Linked DNA regions of Homo sapiens: all the other regions are linked to region 1. The links come from fine-mapping of genetic effects on gene expression. A gene starts in region 1. Each other region holds a variant in brackets. All regions are shown on one strand. Distances are from middle to middle. Region 1 holds the start of OSBPL11 (oxysterol binding protein like 11). Region 2 overlaps ZNF148 (zinc finger protein 148). Region 3 overlaps OSBPL11 (oxysterol binding protein like 11).

What was found. PIP is the estimated chance that this variant, and not a neighbour inherited with it, causes the effect.
Region 2: its variant is fine-mapped to the expression of OSBPL11 in substantia nigra (GTEx, PIP above 0.99).
Region 3: its variant is fine-mapped to the expression of OSBPL11 in whole blood (INTERVAL, PIP above 0.99).

What each region holds. Positions count from the first base shown.
Region 1 is chr3:125,592,946-125,597,187 of GRCh38, reverse strand. It overlaps OSBPL11 (oxysterol binding protein like 11), which reads left to right and starts at 1,691. Exons shown (of 13, transcript NM_022776.5): 1 at 1,691-2,551. The coding sequence starts at 2,388. RefSeq lists a silencer at 1,574-1,983 and enhancers at 2,084-2,143, 3,104-3,163.
Region 2 is chr3:125,273,086-125,277,327 of GRCh38, reverse strand. All of the region lies in intron 7 of ZNF148 (zinc finger protein 148), which reads left to right. Among named protein-coding and RNA genes, the nearest start is that of SLC12A8, 62 kb to the right of the region's middle. The variant T/C (reference allele first, on the strand shown) is at 2,139.
Region 3 is chr3:125,534,123-125,538,364 of GRCh38, reverse strand. The region is part of intron 11 of OSBPL11 (oxysterol binding protein like 11); the gene reads left to right. Among named protein-coding and RNA genes, the nearest start is that of SNX4, 16 kb to the right of the region's middle. The variant G/A (reference allele first, on the strand shown) is at 2,099.

The DNA.
Region 1 (4,242 bases):
CCTCTCAGACACCGAGTTGTAGAAGGAAGGGCTTTATCCAGCTGGGAGCATCAGCAAGCTACTGCCTCAAAATCTGAGCTCCCCAAGTGCACAATTTCTGTCCCTTTTAAGGGCTCACGACACTAAAGATTTCACATGAAAGGGTCATGATTGATTTGAGCAAACAAGCGGTACATGACAGGGGCTGCATGTACCGGTGGTCAGAGAGAAACAGAACAGGGCAGGGAGTTTCACAATGTTCTGCTGCACAATGTCTGGAATCCATGAATAACATCGGTTTCTAAGTTATGAGTTGATTTTTAACTACTGAGTTTAGGCCAGGCAGGCCCAGGCCTGGTTTCCGGCCTGGCGCTGGGCTGCCTGTCTTTGGTTTTACTTCCTTGCTGTTTCTTTTTTTCTTAAAACAGGTACTGAGTATAAAACAATATGAGAGGGTCTCTCTCCTTCCTCAGGCTCACTGCAACGTCCGCCTCCCAGGCTCAAGTGATTCTTCTGTCTCAGCCTCTTAAGTAGCTGGGATTACGGGCACGCACCACCATGCCCGGTTAATTTTTGTATTTTTAGTTGAGAATGGGTTTCACCATGTTGGCCAGGCTGGTCTCGAACTCCTGACCTCAAGTGATCCGCCCACCTCGGCCTCCCAAAGTGCTGGGATTACAGGCGTGAGCCACTGTGCCCAGCCTCAAGTCATGTTATTATAAACTAAAATTAGCAATTAGGAGAGACTTTAGAAATCTACCCATGCACTCTTGTTTTACAAATCCAAAACCAAGGCCTAAACAAGGTGAAAGATTTGTCTGGGGTCTGGAAGAGTACCTAGCTCTGTTCTGAGATCTCTAATTTCCATGACAGCTTCTTTTTAATTTATAATAATGATTGGCTTTACTCCAATGTCATGCTTGCCCCCCCCCCACCCCAAGTAACTAAAACGTACAGATGTTTGCTTCGTTCTTGTACTTTCTTATTTTTGTAAGCTTTCTTCCTAAAATGCCTGGAACGGCCCCTCAAATGGAAGGCTAGGACGTGGTTAGGAAGGCGGGCACTCGGCCGGGCGCGGTGGCTCACGCCTGTAATCCCAGCACTTTGGGAGGCCGAGGCGGGCGGATCACGAGGTCAGGAGATCGAGACCATCCCGGCTAAAACGGTGAAACCCCGTCTCTACTAAAAATACAAAAAACTAGCCGGGCGTAGTGGCGGGTGCCTGTAGTCCCAGCTACTTGGGAGGCTGAGGCAGGAGAATGGCGTGAATCCGGGAGGCGGAGCTTGCAGTGAGCCGAGATCGCGCCACTGCACTCCAGCCTGGGCGACAGAGCGAGACTCCGTCTCAAAAAAAAAAAAAAAAAAAAGGAAGGCGGGCACTCACACACCAGAAGGGAACTCTCTAGTGCTGCTGGCTCCTTTGTTTCTTCCTCCTTCACTGTCCGGGTTCCTCGTTCCGTTGCGGCGCCCTCCCTCGCCCTCCCTCGCCCATCAGCCAGTCGCCCAGCTACCAGCTCCCAGAGCCTCCGCCTCCTTCAGGGACCCGCCGCCCTGACCCAAGATGGCGCCAGACGCTTCGGCTGTGAGGGAAGTGAGCTCACGCTACTCCGGAAGGGAAGGCGGGAAGGGAGCAGGGGGCGGGGGGTGGCTGACCCGCTGTGGGGCTGTGGGGCTGTGGGGCTGTGGGTGGGGCGGCGGCCGCGGCCCTGGCATTCGCGCTTGGGTCTGGAGATAGCGCGAGAGACTCACCGGCTCCTGGGAACCCAGTCGAGGGCCCGGGCCAGGGGCATAAGAGGAAGTTGTCCCGAGTGGCTCGCCTCTGGCCCTGGGAGAGGCGGCCCCGGGAGCCGGCGTCCCGCCCCCGGCGGCCTCATTCCCCGACCCTCCTCCCCGGCTGCGCGCGCCGGCCCTGGCTGTATCTCGGGGGCTGCGGCGGGAACTGCCGAGCGGGCTTGACTGGACGCACTGCCTGAGGACCTGCGGAGGAGACGAGGGAGCGCGGCGGGTCAGCCCCGAGGTTAGGCCGCGGGTCCCCTGTCCGTGGCGCTCCGTCCTTTTCCCAGCCGTCTTGGCTACAGAATCTGCGACCTCCCCACACTCCTTCTCTTTTGAGTATGTCACTTAAGTCTTCTCGCCGGATGCTTTTTCCTCCTTGCTTTTGCCGGAAAGGAGAGAGATACATGTGAAGGATATCTGTCCTCGTTGCTTCCCCTGCCCTCTCAAAAGTTTAACTTCTGTGGGAATGTGTATCTTCCTTTTCTGGACCATTTGACAGTCCCGCCCCAGCCGCCGTGTGATTTAGCAACCGGTATCATATTCAGATCAAATCTTAAAAAAAAAAAGTCACCTACAGAACTACAGAATTGTTCTCTCCCGCTCAAGAAGGGCAAGTGGACTTTGGCGTTAAGATGCAGGGGGGTGAACCAGTGTCCACAATGAAAGTCTCGGAGAGCGAAGGAAAGCTGGAGGGCCAGGCCACAGCGGTGACCCCGAACAAGAACAGCAGCTGTGGAGGTGGAATCAGTAGCAGCAGCAGCAGCCGCGGTGGCAGTGCAAAAGGCTGGCAGTACAGGTATGCTCCTTTCTCCAAAATTATTTCCCGAGGTGGAGGTAGGGGTGAATATGCCCTGGAGGCTGCATCCCGCAATTGTTGAAAGATAAAAGTTTTTTCACTGGCTTCCAGAAGCTACTGATACATCTCGTTTGGATCTGGGACCTCGCCTAAAAGATTTAATCCATTCATTTGTTCATTCAACAGGTATTTATGGAAGGCCTTTTGAGGAACACAGAAATGTATCCCTGAACTTCCTCTACAGTCAGAGAGTTAATGCTTCCTCAGATTTAATTCTGTACTCACTTCTGCTTTTGCCTATGTTGCAATTTATTTACAAGCCAGCTTTCTCTGATAGACTGCGAGGGCAGGAACTGTTTAACTCAGCTTTCTCGAGAGGGTAGCAAATACTGGTGCTCAAAACTTACTTGTCCAGAGCTTCTCCAGAATCAGAAAAGATTCTTGCCCTGAAGGTATTTGTGACTTGGAAAGGGGAATGTACATAAGTAATTGGAATGCAAGGACAAAGGTAGAGATCCTAATGCCTCTGATAAACTAAACCTGAGCCTGGAGATGTTCAGTTTGCGTTGCTCAGGCCACTTCAATGCTCTCTGTGTTGATGAGAAAGTCTATATTTGTTAATTTTCACTAATATGAATGAACAACTTAAGGAACAGGAGGAGAGTCCTGGAGAGGCAACAAGTTTTGTTTTTGTTTTTTCATATATGAAGTGTAGGGAGAAAGAACTATCCAGAACCTTAAGAATGAATGAAACAAACCAGCACATCCCATCGTATTGGAACTAAAGGGATGAATTCTTAAGTTTTGATTGACTCCTATGTGCCTAACTGTAGTCCTTTTTAGCCTTTGTGCTTATTTGTGCTTGTGAAATTTTTGTGAAACTTGGAAGGGATTAAAGCCAAGATTTTGTGAGGGATATACATTTATCATGAATAATATTCATATGTATGAAATATGCATGACTATATTAACATATAGAAGTGAAGTATAGAAGATTATAATTTTTTTTTTTTTTTTGAGGCAGAGTCTGGCTCTGTCACCCAGGCTGGAGTGTGGTGGCGCGATCTCGGCTCACTACCACCTCCACCTCCTGGGTTCAAGCGATTCTCGTGTCTCAGCCTCCCGAGTAGCTGGGATTACAGGCGTGCGCCACCACACCTGGCTAATTTTTGTATTTTTAGTAGAGATGGGGTTTCACCATGTTGGCCAGGCTGGTCTCGAACTCCTGACCTCAAGTGATCAGCCCTCCTCTGCTTCCCAAAGTGCCGGGATTACAGGCTTGAGCCACCGCGCCTGGCCAGAAGATAACTTTTTATTGGTAAGTGACTGTAGGATAAGAAGATATATTCAGTTAGTTTGAGAGGTCTAGGCCCGCTTTTGGAATCAGCATGATTTTTTTGTATGTGTGTGACCTGTGGCAGGGGCCGCGGGTCCCCTGTCCGTGGCGCTTCGTCCTGACCTGCTATGGGGCTGTGGGTGGGGCGCCGCCGCGGCCCTGGCATTCACATTTGGGTCTGGAGAGAGCCGGGAGTCTATTAAGTTGGTTGTGAGGTGCCTTCGAATGTTATTTTTGGTTTACAACTTTCTTGATGATATTGTTTGCAGCACAATGGTTTTTAATTTTCATGAAGTCTAATGAGTTTTTTCTTCTCTTGTTATAGTTTTGTGTCACATCTAAAAAAACATTGTGA
Region 2 (4,242 bases), 320 kb after region 1:
CCTTAGACATGTAATCTTAAAAAGTTGAGAACTGCCAATTTCTCAGTCAAGTTATTAATGATTTAGAAATTAAATATTCTAGAGGATTACTATAAAGGAACACATACCGTAAAAACCTAAGTCTCATTTTAGAGCAAATATTTATTTGCATCTATTTTTGCCAACGGTAAAACCAACTTTTATAAGTAACTTTGATTTAGTAGTCTGTTGACTTTGCCTTTGTTGCCTCTAAGCATGTTGAAAAGTGTTTCTTTAGAATTGATTTCCAGTGTTTTGCTTTTTGTGATGGAATAAAAGCAGAGTTGGTAAATTTGTATAACTTTGAATTTTACATTTGAATAGAATTGAGAATTGTGATAATATGAGAATATTGAAAATATTTAAGTTCTTCATATTTTTCTGTTTTAAGTACTCAAGCAAGTACCTGCCCAGTGTTGTTATTTTGATGTGTTCTCATGGGACCTGCAGTATTTGTGAAAGGACAGTTTGTCATATAGAAACAACCTTTTCTGTCTGATAACTTTTTTTTCAATTTTCTTTGCCCCCAAAAAGAAGCCTGAATGTGTCTGGTCTGCTTAAATAAAACTTTAACTGGGCTGGGCTCAGTGGCTCATGCCTGTAATCTCAGCACTTTGGGAGGCTGAGGTGGGCGGATCACTTGAGGTCGGGAGTTCGATACCAGCCTGACCAACATGGAAGAAACCCCGTCTCTACTAAAAATACAAAATTAGCCGGGCATGGTAGCACATGCCTGTAATCCCAGCTACTCGGGAGGCTGAGGCAGGAGAATTGCTTGAACCCGGGAGGCGGAGGTTGCGGTGAGTCGAGATCGCGCCATTGCACTCCAGCCTGGGCAATAAGAGTGAAACTCCGTCTCAAAAATAAATAAATAAAATAAATAAATAAATAAATAAATAAAACTTTAACTGTGCAACATGTCTGTATGCTTGGATGTTCTACTTTTTAACAATCATTTTGCACATTACTAGTTTCAGTTTTTTAAGTAAACGTATTCATCTCTTTTTATTAGAAGGGGCTATACTAGGCACTGTGGGAGAAAAAAATTTATAGATTTTGTGTGACTTATAGCTAAATTTAAATTCCTATATAACAATAAAACCTGATCAGATACAAATGAAAGTGATTATTTTTGTGTGTTCTTAATACCTAATAGGTTTTGATATTTTACTCATTCATTCAACAAAAATTTATTGAGCATCCAGTGTTTTTCAAGCACCAGAAATAGATAACAGAAGGCAGTTTCTTTCTTTGGAGTTTACGTTCTTGTGGAAAAACAGACGTGGAAAAACACACATATAAGCAAGCACAGTGCAGTTAAGTGTTGTAGAATTTTATACAAAATTCTCAAGATACTATTGTGCCCTGAGGAAGAGACACATGTGCTGTCCGTTCTTAGGGCAGGTGTCACAGAAAAGCCACATGAGGCTAAGTTAAGAATATATGTGTGTGGGTGGGTGTGTATCTGAAAAAAATATTTTTGAAACAATACTCACCTTCATTGCACTGTGATATTTTGTGTGTGAGTATGAATTCTTTTTTTAAAAAAGTGCTGGTCACAATCCTGTAATCAACTGCACTAGACCATGGGGAATCTTGGATTTAAGCAGAGTATAATGGGTTGTTAATGTTTGTTTAGAATTTACTAAGTACCAGAAAACTGTGTTAAATATCTCATTTAGTCCTCACATTAATCTTGAAAGGCAGGAGTTATTACTGTCCCCATTTTATAGATGAGGAGGTAGTAAGAAGTGCACATAAGTTAAGGAACTTTCCCAAATGTATATATCTAGTAAATGATGGAACCAAGATTTCAGCTCAAGCCTCTGTGAGTCCAGAGTACACATGTGAAATCACTGGCTATGCAGAATGGGACTAGAAGCAGAAAGTTATATTTGGGCCTTTTTGAGTTTTTCTTGCTCTGTCACTAAGCCAATTATGGCTTAGCCTTCCTATAGGTATAGTAGCATCTAAAAGTGGTAGAAGCAAAGGCTGGAGTTCTCATGTTAGAGAGAACAGTGTAGAAGAAGATAAGGAGTTGAGAGGAACCAGGGCAAAGCAATCACTAGGGTTCCTTAACAAAGAAAAGTTCTTTTGAAGAGAGAATCAATTCTGCCCTA[T/C]TGTTCCCTCCCTACTAGGTGGAACTGATATAAGGGGATAGTTTTCCCTTCTTTACTTCGTATTCTTGATTCTTTTTATAGATTCTTTTTAAAGACAGTAAAATGTTTTTTGTTAAACCTATTTGGGAATATATATCTAGAACCACAAATAGGTCTCCATCATTTATTATTCTGTTCTTACTGTTCTTCCTTTCATTTTCTAAGTGACTTTTATTTTTGGAGGAGGGTAGTGCCCTGAAGTTTGCCCATGTGAAGGCTTTCTTTATTTGTAGGCCCTTAGTTTAGAAGAATGCATTTAAATAGTTACGGCATTAAAAAAGATTTTCCATATTTTTATCCATTTTTAAATTGTCAAATGAGTAATGAGTCACCTAACCGACCCTCAAAGGTTGGTGAAAACCATCTGCCCTTAAAGGCTCCATTTTCCATACATCCTTCCTTCTCCCTTTAGGTCTCATTATACTGTCTTCTCCTGGTCCCTCAGGCCTCCAAGCCCATTCTCTGCCCCTTTGCAACATAGTTAAAAATCATTACTTGCTTGGTAGCTGTGGCCAACAATAAAGAAACCTGTGTCTTATTAAAACCAAGAACATAGTTGATTTGGGTTCAAAAGGAAAAATTTTTAATGTGCTCTAGACAGGCTATTATTTAATTCCATTTCCTACATTTGGGCTTGTCTATGAAACACCATTTTAGGGGAGAGTACTTTTTCATCCAGAGGCTGGTCCCTGAAATTCTGGTTTAAGCTTTATTCCTTTAGACTATGGCACTGAAAACTGCCACATTGTAAATATCCTCAGGACTGCTATTTTTGGCAGTTATGGGAGATTTACCTTTTTTGTGAATATTATATTTTTTGTGAATATTACAGATCCTTTATTTAGGTGATGTTTTGGATGTGAGAGAGAAGATGAGGATTTGAGGCTAAGGTCGAAGATAATTATAATTGATCATTTTGTTTAGGGCCAGGATTACTGATCAAGCGCATATCAAGGTTAAACATTTATCATCATTGGCAGATTTCCTTGTGGATCAAGTACTTTTGTCTGACGTGCCCTTTCCTTGTCTAAGGTGCCTATTTTAAAAATGCATATATAGAATAAATGTTAGAATGGCATATATCCATAGTTGTGTTATTTTCTTCTCACCCCGTGAGCATTTTACTCTAAGAAACTGCCAGTCTTATCACCAAGAGGGATTGAGGAGTAAAAAACTTAAGTACAATTTTTAATTTTATTTTTGTAAATTCCTCTAAATAGTAAGCCACAGAATACCTATCCTGATGTTCTGTTATACAAATTATGGTAGCTTTTTAGTTATGCCAGTTTTCATAATTTATTTTTTATTTCAATTAGTAAAAATGTTACGAAGCTATTTCTATAGGGAAGTTTTTATAAATGATTCTCCTCCCGGCCGGGTGCGGTGGCTCACGCTGTAATCCCAGCACTTTGGGAGGCCACGGCAGGCGGATCACGAGGTCAGGAGTTTGAGAACATAGTGAAACCCAATCTCTACTAAAAATACAAAAATTAGCCAGGCGTGGTGGCACATGCCTTTAGTCCTAGCTACTCGGGAGGCTGAGGCAGGAGAATCGCCTGAACCTGGGAGGCGGAGGTTGTGGTGAGCAGAGCATGCCATTGCACTCCAGCCTGGGCAGCAGAGCAAGACTCCGTCTCAAAAAAAAAAAAAAGATTCTCTTCCCAAAAAAAAGAGATTTTTGAAAAAACTAAATCACTCAGAATTATATATGTTCACTAGGTTTCTTTTTCCATAAGGTTCTTTTTTAAGCCTTTAGTTCTTAGATGTATACAGTTCTCTCTGTAAAAATATAAAAACACTGGAAAACCTGTCATCTAAGTTAGTGTTCTTCATGCCTGAAAACACAGCAGTCCTCTTTTTCTCTTTACTATGACTTTTATTCACAACTGTATTAAATAGCTGTATTAAATAGCTGAATAATAACAGCATCTTATTTTTGTAAACCAGTTGGGCTAATGGGGTGGGGTTAGAGAGAATGTTGATTTACTCTTGACTAACTTAGCTTAACCCTTTATATTTCCCTTAGTATGGTTCAGTTATCGATAAAAATTAGTTTTCTGCTCAC
Region 3 (4,242 bases), 59 kb after region 1:
AGTCACTTCACAGGTTGCATCAGCTTTGTAAATTGAAAGCATTAGTCTGATCTGTTGTTAAACCCCTTGCCAGCTGTGAGATTCTTTGATATACAGTCACATTTTAGTAAAAACCAAACATTGTAAATGGAGCAAAAATATTAAAAACATTTACTGTCAAAGAATTACTGTGTGTATCATAAAAACTTTATCATAAAAAATTTTGTTATATTATTAACAAAAAGTCAGGCACCCCAATACAAAAACTGGGCAAAGGATGTAAAGAGGTAGTGCAAAAATATCGGAACATCTTAAATGCTCAACCAAGGAAATGAAAAATTGTTTAGGGTAATTAGAATTCAGAGGTACAAATTAATCAGACAAATTAGTTTTTAAAATAATACTTCTTTGGGGAAAAGGTGTGAGCAAATGGGCATTTTCATGCTGCTGATTAGATGTTAAACCAGTGCAATCTTTGTAGAGGTTATTTTGGCAGTATGTGTCATAGACCTTGAAAAATAAAGTGGATCTATACGTGTTAATAAGGTACAGCTTCCAAAATGTGTTGACAGTGGTTGCTTCTGGAAAAGAGTACTGGGATCTGGAATAGGAAAGAGACTTAATTTTTACAAGATTCCTATTTGTACTGTTTAAATTTTATGTCATGAGGGACATAAAATGTCCTTCTATCAATTAAAAATAGAAAAAAAATATACAGGGAACCACTAAACATCTTACATTAAGATCACATAAATAGAACCAAACAATTTCTAACTAGGTGTGAAAAGGGATTAAATGTCCACAATCAAACATTCAGAGTGGGTCAAAAAATAACAGCAATAATGAATTTTTAAAGAATTCTTACAGGGATTTATCCTAAGGAGAGGGTCTCAAAGTTTGCTTTGCAGACCCCTGTTGGGTCCTTGAGACCTTTTCAGGGCATCTGCAAGTTCACAATTTGTTTATAACAATACAGAGATATTATTTATCATTTTTCACTCTGTGGGCTCTTATGATGGTGCAAAAGGAATGCTGTGGGTAGCACTGGTGGGCCTTAGGACTAATCTAGGCAGTGGCACCAAACGTCACAAGCAGTCATTATATTCTTCACTGCCATGTACTCGCATGCCCCTTTCTCTTAAGATGTCCTTGAAAAAGCAATACAAATTATTAGTTTTTTTAAAATCTGGATTACTGAGTACATGTCTTTTTTTTTTTTTTTTTTTGAGACAGGGTCTCACCCTGTCACCCAGGCTGGAGTGTGGTCGGGCGATCTCGGCTCCCTGCAACTTCCACCTCCTAGGTTCAAGTGATCCTCCTGCCTCAGCCTCCTGAGTAGCTGGGACTGCAGGCATCGACCACCACGCCTGGCTAATTTTTTGTATTTGTAGTAGAGACGGGGTTTCACCATGTTGGCCAGGCTGGTCGTGAACTTCTGACCTCAAGTGATCCTGCCACCTCAGCCTCCCAAAGTGCTGGGATTACAGGCATGAGCCACCGTGCCTGGCCGAGTACATGTCTTATTAGTATTCTGTATGACAAATTGGGAATATAAATAAGTATTTGTGCTGGCTACCGAAGAAATATAGTAGTTATCTGGAGGAAGAGCACTTGTAAAATTTTTTGAGTTACAAGCAGAATTAATCACTTTGTTCATGAAATACCATGTTTACTTAAAAGAATGATTGATAGACAAACTATGGTTCTTCTAATTTCAATGTTAGGTAGACATTTTTCTTGTAAATGAAAGACATGAATGTGATACTTAAAGAAAAACAATTGATGGTATGTTACTAATAATAAAATTTGAGCTTCAAGGCAAAATTAGAATTTTAGAAAATTGTATCTGCCACCATGAACTTGAAAACTTCCCAATTAGTTTTCTGGTGAACTTGGTGCTTATATTATTGAACGTGATTTTTTAAAATATTGTATAGTATGTCAACATCTGGAAGATCTGCATAACTCAATGAACCAGTATTTTTCAAATGACTAATGCATGATATTACAGAATCATGCATGGATAAATGATCCATTCAGGATGCACATTAGACCAGTGGATTTCCATATAAGTTATTTGAAAAAATATTGACATTCTTAAATTTTCCACATTGCAACT[G/A]GCCTTTTTAAAATTACCAGTTGTCGAGTTTTGAAACAGTATGAAAGAATTGAATTATTTGAAAAATCTGTAAAAATATTTCTTCTCTTTTTCAAACTGTATCTGTGTGAGGCCAGAATTTTTTTTTTTTTTTTGAGATGGACTCACTCTGTCACCTAAGTTGGAGTGCAGTGGCATGATCTCGGCTCACTGCAACCTCTGCCTCCTGGGCTCAAGCGATTCTCATGCCTCAGCCTCCCAAGTAGCTGGGATTACAGGTGCACACCACCACACCCAACTGATTTTTTTGTATTTTTAATAGAGATGGGGTTTCACCATGTTGGTCAGGCTGGTCTTGAACTCCTGATCTCAGGTGATCCGCCCACCTCGGCCTCCCAAAGTGCTGGAATTACAGGCTTGAGCCACCATGCCCGGCCCAGATTTTTCCTATATATACTTTAAATCAATATATCACCACAGATTGAATGTATGGGCAGATAAAGAGATGCTTCTGGGCCGGTGTGGTGGCTCACGCCTATAATCCCAGCATGTTGGAAGGCCAAGGCGGGTGTGTCACTTGAGGTCAGGAGTTCAAGACCAGCCTGGCCAACATGGTGAAACCCCATCTCTACTAAAAATACAAAAATCAGCCAGGCATCTCTACTAAAAATACAAAAATCACCTGGCGTGGTGGCGTGCACCTGTAGTCTCAGCTACTCGGGAGGCTGAGGCATGAGAATCACTTGAACCCAGGAGGTGGAGGTTGCAGTGAGCCGCCGTTGAACCACTGCACTCTAGCCTGGGTGACAGAGCCAGACTGTCTCAAAAAAAAAAAAAAAAAAAAAAAAGATGCTTCTGAATTTTATTTGCTAAAATTTTGTAATGAATTTTATAGTTTCTATATACATGAGGGATATTGCTCTGTTCTTTTCTTTAGGGGAAGGTTTTGAATTACAAATTACGTATGTTTAATATATAGGGCTGTTAAGGTTTTCTGTTTCTTCAGTGAGCTTTGGTAGTTTGTCTTTCAAGGAATTGGTTCATTTCAGCTAATGTGTCAAATTTATTGTCATATAGTTCCTAATATTACCTTATTTTTTTATCTGTGTAGGATCTATAGTGATATCCCCATACTTATTCCTTATATTTGTAATATCTTTTTTCTCATCAGTGTGACTAAAAGTTTATTAATTTTACACAAAAAACCAGATTTTGGCTTCACTGATTTAATCTATGTTTGTTTTCTTTCTCATTGAATTTTGCTCTTTTATAAAATCTCTTTTTTTCTCCTTACATTGTAAATAATTTGCTTTTTTTTTTTTTTTTTTTTTTTTTTCTAATTTCTTACAATGGAAGCTTAGGTTAGGGGTCAGCAAACTTTTTCTGTAAAAGGCCAATTAATATTTTAGCCTTAGTGGACCAAATAGCCTCTCCCACAGCTACTCAACTCTGCCCTTATAGCATGAAACATCCATAGACAATAAGTCAATGATGAGACATTGTTAAATTGCAATAAAAAATTATTTACAAAAATGGGCTGTGGGCCATAGTTTGATCCCTGGTTTAGCTCATCAATATTTTTTTCCTAAATGTTTAATGCTGTAAATTTTCCTCTGAGGACTGCTTTATTTCTATCTGATGACTTTTTATGTGTTTTCATTTCGAAATATTTTCTTATTTCCTTTGTGGGTTTTTTTTTTTTAACTCATGAACTTATTTACAAATGTGTTGATGATTTCTAAATGTTTAGAGATTTTCCAGCTAGCTTTCCATTATTTATTTCTAATTTAGTTTCATTTTGGTGAAAGAATATACTTTGTATGATTTTAATTCTTTATTTAGGTTTGTTTAATGATTCTGAATATGTTCTGTCTTGGTAAATGTTTCTTTTTTTTTTTTTAAGACAAAGTAGTGTCTTACTCTGTCGCCCAGGCTGGAGTGCAGTGATGCAGTCTCGGCTCACTGCAACCTCCACCTCCCTGGTTCAAGCGATTCTCATGCCTCAGCCTCCCGAGTAGCTGGGACTACAGGCGTGTGCCACCACACCCAGCTAATTTTTTTATATTTTTAGTAGAGATGGGGTTTCACCATGTTGGCCAGGCTGGTCTCAAACTCCTGACCTCAAGTGATCCACTCACGTCGGCCTCCCAAAGTGCTAGAATTAT